Linked DNA regions of Homo sapiens. The protein of the gene in region 1 interacts with the protein of each later gene in a pairwise test. Each region holds a gene or a part of one and is shown on either strand. Other genes may lie near its edges. The genes, in order: GPR50 and MT1A.

Region 1 (4,111 bases):
AATTCCCGGGGGCTCTAGCCACCTCATCTCAGAAGTGCAGTACACTGGAGTGTAGCAATGCCTGCAAGGTTTGCAAGCTCTCCTTACAGGTTTGTTTGGGGCAGGGGGAGTCTAGTGTCTTAAGTCACTAGAAGGTGTGTTTCGTTTTTTCCTTCAAATGTATTTTGTTTACTTATTTGAATTCAAAATCGCCCCTTCCCACAAGTGAAGGGATCCAAACTCTCGGGGAACCAGCAAGAACAGCCTGATGTGCATCCTACAAAATACTCCACTGCGCGGACGGGCTTTTGACTGACAGCCTCTTTACAGGGCGCACAGCTGTGTGGGGAGGACAGCGGAGCCCCTTCACTGTCTGCACTTACGGAAAAAAATGCGAGCGCGCGCGGCCGGGAGTTCCAGCCAGCGAGGGGCAGTGAGATAATGAATGTGAAAAGCCTCCAGGCGGGAGATTGTAATTCGCGCCGGATTCAGTTCACAGACGCGAAAGCCGCAGGATTGGGGTGGGGGCTTCATTTTCAAACAAGGAGACACATTTCCAGTTTAGGCTTTATAGCTAGAGACAGTGTGTGCAATCTTGGTTTTCAACAGTGTCTGTTTTTTTCGTTAAAGGTATCTGAATGTTGAAGTTCGTCGCGTAACAGGCCCCTACTACCTACCCCGCCTTGTCCGTCCCCCCACCCACCCCGGGGCAAGAGGGCTGCTGTGTCCAGACGATGGCGCTCCCGGCCAGTGCAACCCCTCTCCCCTACTGTGGCAAGAAGACTAGTCTGGAACAAGTTTCAAGGTGTTTACTGAGATTTTGAAAGGCTTCTCGACAGGAGCCGTAACTTTTAGTAGCCGGCAGAAATCCATTCCCGTGACCAAGGTTATTGAGGGAACGAGTGTCCGAATCACGCCCCTTTAGTTTTGCCCGAATATTCGAATTTTCCGTGGTCCCCGCGGAGCGAGATCCTGGGCGCACCGCAGGGGAACTGTGACGCACGGGGACAGAGATCCGCGGTGTGGAGGGCGAGGGGGGAGGCCTGAGAGGGATGGGGTCGAAACGAGAACCCCAGAAGGGCATGGGAAAGGAGAAAGACCGAGAGGAATCCTGACTGAGGCAGGGATCGCCGGTCAGCCAGAGGCTTCTTGGTTTAGCCGCGTGACACCTCCGCACCTTTCCCGCGGCTGCGGCGCAGCTCCTTCAGCCTTCCTGACTGCCCCGTGCCGCTCAGTAGAGAATGCCGAGCATCCCGAGAGGGAGAGGCGTCAGAGCCTCTCGTCCTGAGTTTCCTTGAGAAGCGGGGACCCAAGAGAAGAGCTTTATTGCCTGTTTTACTTTTTCCCAAAGCGTCCCTTGGCTTCCGCCGCCTGGCTGCCGGCAGCTGGAAAGGAGACGAGCTCCCGCTCCCGTTCGCCCCCAAACTGAGGACCGAGTGGCCACCAATGCCTTCCCTAGGTCCCAGGGTGCAGACCCGCTCCCCACTTCCAGAGTCGGGCGCAGGGTACATCTCTTTATGGAGAGTGCAAGACCTGGACCGGACTGAGCGGCTACTCGCAGCTGCCGCTAAGGGAGCCAAGAGGCTCCTGGCGAGAAAGGGAGCGGGGTTAAGTTCCCTAGGGATTAGGGACCCAGATTGGGGGTGGGAGCTCCCAGCAGTAGTCCCCTGTTCCCCGCGGGACACAGAAGGCTCTAGACAGGCAAGGGCATGGGGCGTGGGATGGACCTCACAAGGATACTTGCAGAGGCAAGCATCTAGCGTTCAAGGGGCCACCGGCTATCCCCTATACCCTGCTGGGGGCTGTGGACTGGCTTGGTCTAGCACTGGATCCTATGAAAGACTCTGTGCTCCGGCTCTGCAATCTACATCTCTTTGCCAGGTGTTTGCACTGGAGGAGAGAGGGAGAAGAACTTGCTAGAAACGAATGCACAGGGGCTGGTGGAGGGGGTGTGGGGTGGACTCCGAGCTAGTCATGATGCTTGCAAGGTACCTGGGAGATTGAGAGGCAGGGCAGGCTGGCTAGAGAGGAAGTACATACAAGGCAGTCGGAAGCAAGATGACACCTCAATGTGGATTTGTCCAATAAGAGGGGGTAGCCAAGGGGGGGGTATTCAGGGAGGTCTGATTGGTCGGGGGGAGGGATTTGGGGTGGGGCTAGCCGCCTCTTGAGGCTTTAAAAGCTCATCGGAGAGGGGCGGGATGCTGTCATTTGCTCTCTGACTCTCAGAGAGGGAGGCACGCTTTCCTGGAGCTCCTGGTGACAGAACAGGTGTTTGCTGTCTGGACCTGGCTGCTGATCCTGAGCCTGCTGGGAGATCTTAACGATCCCCAGGAGCAACATGGGGCCCACCCTAGCGGTTCCCACCCCCTATGGCTGTATTGGCTGTAAGCTACCCCAGCCAGAATACCCACCGGCTCTAATCATCTTTATGTTCTGCGCGATGGTTATCACCATCGTTGTAGACCTAATCGGCAACTCCATGGTCATTTTGGCTGTGACGAAGAACAAGAAGCTCCGGAATTCTGGTAAGCCACCCCTTCTTCTCCCTACCCAGTGTGCAGAGACTTGCAACCCCTAGGGCGTTAGTTTTTGAGCTCCCCGAATAGAGAATCTATGGACAGTGCCCTCATATTGAACATCCCTGCTCCCAAATTCCCCGCAAGCCTGGGGGTGGTAGTATTCTGTCCCGGCCCTCTAAACGTGGAGGTTCTCAAGGCCGAGAGAGCACAGAGAATTAGCTTTGGGCATCCAAGTACAAAGCGTTCCCGTGGTGCGCGGCAGCCCGAGGATCCCTGTCCCGTCGGGGCCTGATGCGGAGGGAGCCGGCACCCGAGCGGGAGAGTCAGGCGATTCGCCCGGGGACAGCAAGCCGAGCCGGACGCCGCAAGGGCGGCCGCGCTGAGGCAGCGCGGACCGAACTGACGCGGAGGGAGCAGCGGGGCTGCGACCTGCTCTGTGAAAGTTAAGTTCGCGGCGGCCGCGGCGGCCCTTACCAGAGCGCAACGCAGTGGCCTCTCCCTAGCCGGGCCAAGAGCCCGCTCGCCGCGGCCCTGGGGCTCCAGGACGGCTCCCGGGCAGATCCCGGGCGGCGGAGCACAGACCCCCGCGCCCGAGAATCGAGCAGGGAGGTCTGAGCCCGCCGGAGCCGAGCTCCGTCCGCCCGTCCCAGGGCGAACGGCAGAGAGAGGCAAGCGGCGGGTCGGGCACAGCAGGCGGTGGCAGCGACGGCGGCGGCAGCGGAGATCCCAAGGTCCGTAAGCGGGGAACTGGGGGGTCGCAGGGCGGGCCGGCCAAGAGGCTTGGGAGCTGGGCGTTGCTGGGGGTGGAGGGATAGAAGGCAGCAAAACCGAGTAGGGATTGGCGGGAGGGCGACGGGAGAGCTCAGAGGCGGCGATGGGGGACTCAGAGAGGCTGCAAAGGGCTGGGGTCTGGGAGCCGCAGGCGGGACTTCCCCCGCTGCTAGCCACTGCCGAGCGGGAGGAGGCCGGGGGCCGGGGGCCGGCGGCGAGCAGGGCAGGAGGGAAGCGTGGGAGGATGCCGGGCGCTGCGACCTGTGCTGGGGGTGGGGGCGGCAGACACTGCAGAGCAGCTAGTCCGGCTTACAGGTTGGGCGGGAGAGGGCTCTGGAAGGGAGGGGAAGGGGCAAAGGCGCCCAAACTCCGAGTTCAGGCCGGGGGAGGGAGGGGCGGCGCCTGGAATTTCCACCGCCAGATTCTCGATCGGCTGGGGCTAGGAGTGGGGACCGAAGGGGGTCTGAGAGGGTGGGGAGACCAGCTGGATTCTCCCGGGCAGGGCGTGGGGGAGAGGTGGCGGCCGGGGTCTGGGGGATTACTTTGCTTGGGCAAGGAGTCACGAACACTGAACAAGTTTAAAAACGCACTGACTGGCACACAGTCATTAAAAGTTTTCTTACAAAGTCTGGTGGGTGTCTCCGATTTCTCCTTCGTCTCCTGGAATCGTGGGGCCATACACTAGGTCTTCACCTTCACCCCCGCGGTGCGGTCCCGAGGTGCAAACCCACGGAATCCTGGGGGCGACCTGCGAAGCCCATTTTATTCCCTTTAGATTTCTTTTCTTTCTTTTTCTCCTTCTCCTTCCTTCCTTCTATAATTCAAATAAAGGCTTTTAT
Region 2 (3,600 bases), on another chromosome or scaffold:
CACGCTTGCTATTAGGGCAGGGAGGTGCCTGGTGAAGTCTGCTGCCACCTCTCACTCTCCCCTTCTTCCCCAGGCTGCTGCTTCTGCTGCCCCATGGGCTGAGCCAAGTGTGCCCACGGCTGCATCTGCAAAGGGACGTCGGAGAAGTGCAGCTGCTGTGCCTGATGTGGGAACAGCTCTTCTCCCAGATGTTAATAGAACAACCTGCACAACCTGGATTTTTTTTTTATACAATACTGAGCCATTTGCTGCATTTCTTTTTATATTAAATATGTGAGTGACAATAAAACAATTTTGACTTGAATCTTACTCTGTTCTTCTTTGTGTGCCTTGGAAAAAATGGACTGGGGTGGAGGTTAAACCGCAAGCTTAGAGACCAGGCTCTGGATGGAAATGTGAGTCACTAATAATGTGAACACCTTCAGGCCAGTCAGGTTACCTCACTGAGTTCACACTTCTGTGAAATGGTACTGCACTTTGCCACACCATATGGGTGGGGACCATACATGATCGCTTCCAGTCTCATGCCAAACGTGGCACAGAAACTTCATTCCTTATTTTTATTTTCTGATTTTCCTCCACAACTTGAGATCCACATTGGATTTTAGGCTTAAAAGTGGCTATAGTGCTGGAACCCAACTTCTTAGTTTCTTGAATCCTACATGTGTGCTATGATTTAGATATTTTGTCACTGCCAAATCTCATGTTGAAATGTGTCCTCCACTATTGCAGGTGGGGCCTAGAGGGAGCTTTTGGGGTCATGAGGACACATCCCTAAAGAATGACTTGGTGCCATCCCATGGTAAAGAGTGTGTTCATCCTCTGGTAGGTCACTCCAGTGGTGGCTGTGAATGAAAGTGATTAGAAAGGGACTGGTATAGACTCAATGTTATGCCTTAGTCAGGTGTACTTTAGGGAAATAACTGGATGTCTTGCTTTTTAATTTTATTTTTTTAGAGAAGTTGACTTGCTATGTGGACTAGGCAGGACTGGAAGTCCTGGGCTTAAGTGATGCTCCCGCCTCAGCCTCCTAAGTAGCTTGGACTACAGCTTCCCGCCACCTCCCCCATCTTGCTTTTTAGTTTAAAGCAGGGTCAGCACATCACATGAAGTCATCTCCTTTTTGGGGATATCCCACATGTCCAGAACTGCCAGACGGTAGTGGGGTGGCCGGCTAGGCTGTGGGGAGCACGGAGATTTATTTGCAAAGGAGGACCTGGACAAATGTGCCCCCACATCCTCTCAGGCGAGGAGAATGGACGAGAGTGAGAGGCCGACCCGTGTTCCCGTGTTACTGTGTACGGAGTAGTGGGTCCGAGGGACCTAGGTGTGGACAGGGACAGGCAAGGCGACAGCGAGGAGAAACGAAAATCACATCGGTGGCGGTTGCTCTGCACACAACTCGCTCGCTACCGCACGCTCCACGCTCTGCACTACGCCGATCCGGGGACAGGAGCAGGAGGCTGTGGCTGCACTCAGACTTCGGGACAGGCCGAGCTGAAAACCGTGAGAGGGGTGGGGTGGAGGCGACCGAAACGCCAAGGCTGGGTTCCCGGAACGCGCGGGGACTAGGGTGGAAGGCAACTTCGGGGAAACTGGGAAAGGCGACCGGGACCTCGGGGACGCCCCGTACCCCGGGCGTAAACTCACTCCCGCGTTAGCGGCCCCAAAGCGGGGAGGGGGTGGTCCCGTGGTCCGCACCCAGGGGAGCTCAGTGGACTGTGCGCCTTGCCTTTCTGCTGCGCAAAGCCCAGTCCAGGTCATCACCTCGGGCGGGGCGGACTCGGCTGGGCGGACTCAGCGGGGCGGGCGCAGGCGCAGGGCGGGTCCTTTGCGTCCGGCCCTCTTTCCCCTGACCATAAAAGCAGCCGCTGGCTGCTGGGCCCTACCAAGCCTTCCACGTGCGCCTTATAGCCTCTCAACTTCTTGCTTGGGATCTCCAACCTCACCGCGGCTCGAAATGGACCCCAACTGCTCCTGCGCCACTGGTAAGGGATGCTAGGTTTCTGGTCCTTAGGATACCTATTTCCCCGCCACAGGATAGATGTCCCTAGGAGTAGAGGTGTTTTTTGAGTTCTAGCTAAGTGGAGTCATTTATTTCATTGATCTAGTGCTTTTCCACTCAGCGCCTTCATCATCCCTAGAACATTCCTATTCTAATGCCTCCCATTTCAGAGGCGAGAGGACTCAGGCTCATAATTCTCCTGCTCCATGTCACCCAGGTAGTCGGGGACTGCTAGGCTGAGCCCCAGTACTCTGCGCAGTTCCTGGGGTGGATGGGAGACAGGAGTTATTGGTTTTTCGGGATTAAGGACATAAAGCCCATCCTAGCCTCTACAGATAGAAGTAAGATTAGGCTTCATGGTGCCCTGAGTTGGACAGGAGCTATCTATCAGGCCTGGCAATGCACTCAGCTGGCAGCATTTGTTGACCAACTGCTGTTATCTTCTGTATAAAATTCACTGCCTTTTTCTCTTCCTTGCAGGTGGCTCCTGCACCTGCACTGGCTCCTGCAAATGCAAAGAGTGCAAATGCACCTCCTGCAAGAAGAGTGAGTGTGGGGCCATCTCCAGGAATCTGGGGCTGAGCCAAGTCAGAGGCAGGAAACCAGAGCTGGGCATGGAGGAGTAGGCCAATGATCCATTTCCCACATCCCCTTCCCCAGCAACTGATTCAGGATCAGAGCCAGATCTTTAGACGTGATGGATTCCCAAGTTTCGTTCTTAAAATAGACAAACTGAGGCCAAGAGTGCACCAGCCTGCCAAGCACAGACATGACACCTAAGGACTTTCCTCCCCTAAGTGTGTGGTTCTGGGGAGCCAGCCTTCCTTTGTCCTTCATAACCCCAGTCACTGCCTTTCCAGCCTTCTGCCAGGTCTGGGGCTCAGATGGAGATAAGCTTTTCACAGAAGACCCTCACTCGAAAGATCCACCACTTATCTCCCATCTCCGACAGTGCATGCCATCCTGAACTAAGTGTCCTCTGGGGCTGGGGACAGAGCTTGGGCCAGGCTTCTCTGGGGGCAGGGAAGTCCCCGGTCAAGTCTGGTCTGACCTCTCACTCTCCCTTCTTCCCCAGGCTGCTGCTCCTGCTGCCCCATGAGCTGTGCCAAGTGTGCCCAGGGCTGCATCTGCAAAGGGGCATCAGAGAAGTGCAGCTGCTGTGCCTGATGTCCGGACAGCCCTGCTCGAAGATATAGAAAGAGTGACCTGCACAAACTTGGAATTTTTTTTCCATACAACCCTGACCCATTTACTGTATTTTTTTTAATGAAATATGTGAATGATAATAAAAGTTGCTGACTTAATGCTGGCTCTGGTTTTCTTTGTGTGCCTTGGAAATAAGGGACCCCATACCCAACAGAGCTGGGATGGTGGATTGCATTGAGAGTCCAGAGACCTGGGTGCTGGGACCTTGTCCTATTATCTTACACACTGAGTGCCTTAAGGCAAATCAGGCACCTGCCTCAGGTCAGTTTCTTAAATAAAAATGTAAGAGCGTGATGACAGATGATATAATGCCACAGGAATCTGTCACAGACTTAAGCTTTGGTAAGATAAAATCTATTAGTATGACAAAAAAAAAACACCAAATCCAT

The links.
Region 2: the proteins of GPR50 (region 1) and MT1A interact in binary tests that used the Homo sapiens proteins (3 or more experiments, as listed by UniProt).

What each region holds. Positions count from the first base shown.
Region 1 is NC_000023.11:151,174,402-151,178,512, forward strand, and holds the start of GPR50 (melatonin-related receptor), read left to right. Parts: upstream 1-2,182; 5' UTR 2,183-2,320; coding exon 2,321-2,507; intron 2,508-2,975; exon of another isoform or gene 2,976-3,435; intron 3,436-4,111. UniProt on the Homo sapiens protein: G protein-coupled receptor that plays a role in numerous physiological processes including regulation of energy metabolism, neurite outgrowth or cell migration.
Region 2 is NC_000016.10:56,636,779-56,640,378, forward strand, and holds MT1A (metallothionein-1A), read left to right. Parts: upstream 1-1,887; 5' UTR 1,888-1,960; coding exon 1,961-1,988; intron 1,989-2,485; coding exon 2,486-2,551; intron 2,552-3,080; coding exon 3,081-3,172; 3' UTR 3,173-3,309; downstream 3,310-3,600. UniProt on the Homo sapiens protein: Metallothioneins have a high content of cysteine residues that bind various heavy metals; these proteins are transcriptionally regulated by both heavy metals and glucocorticoids.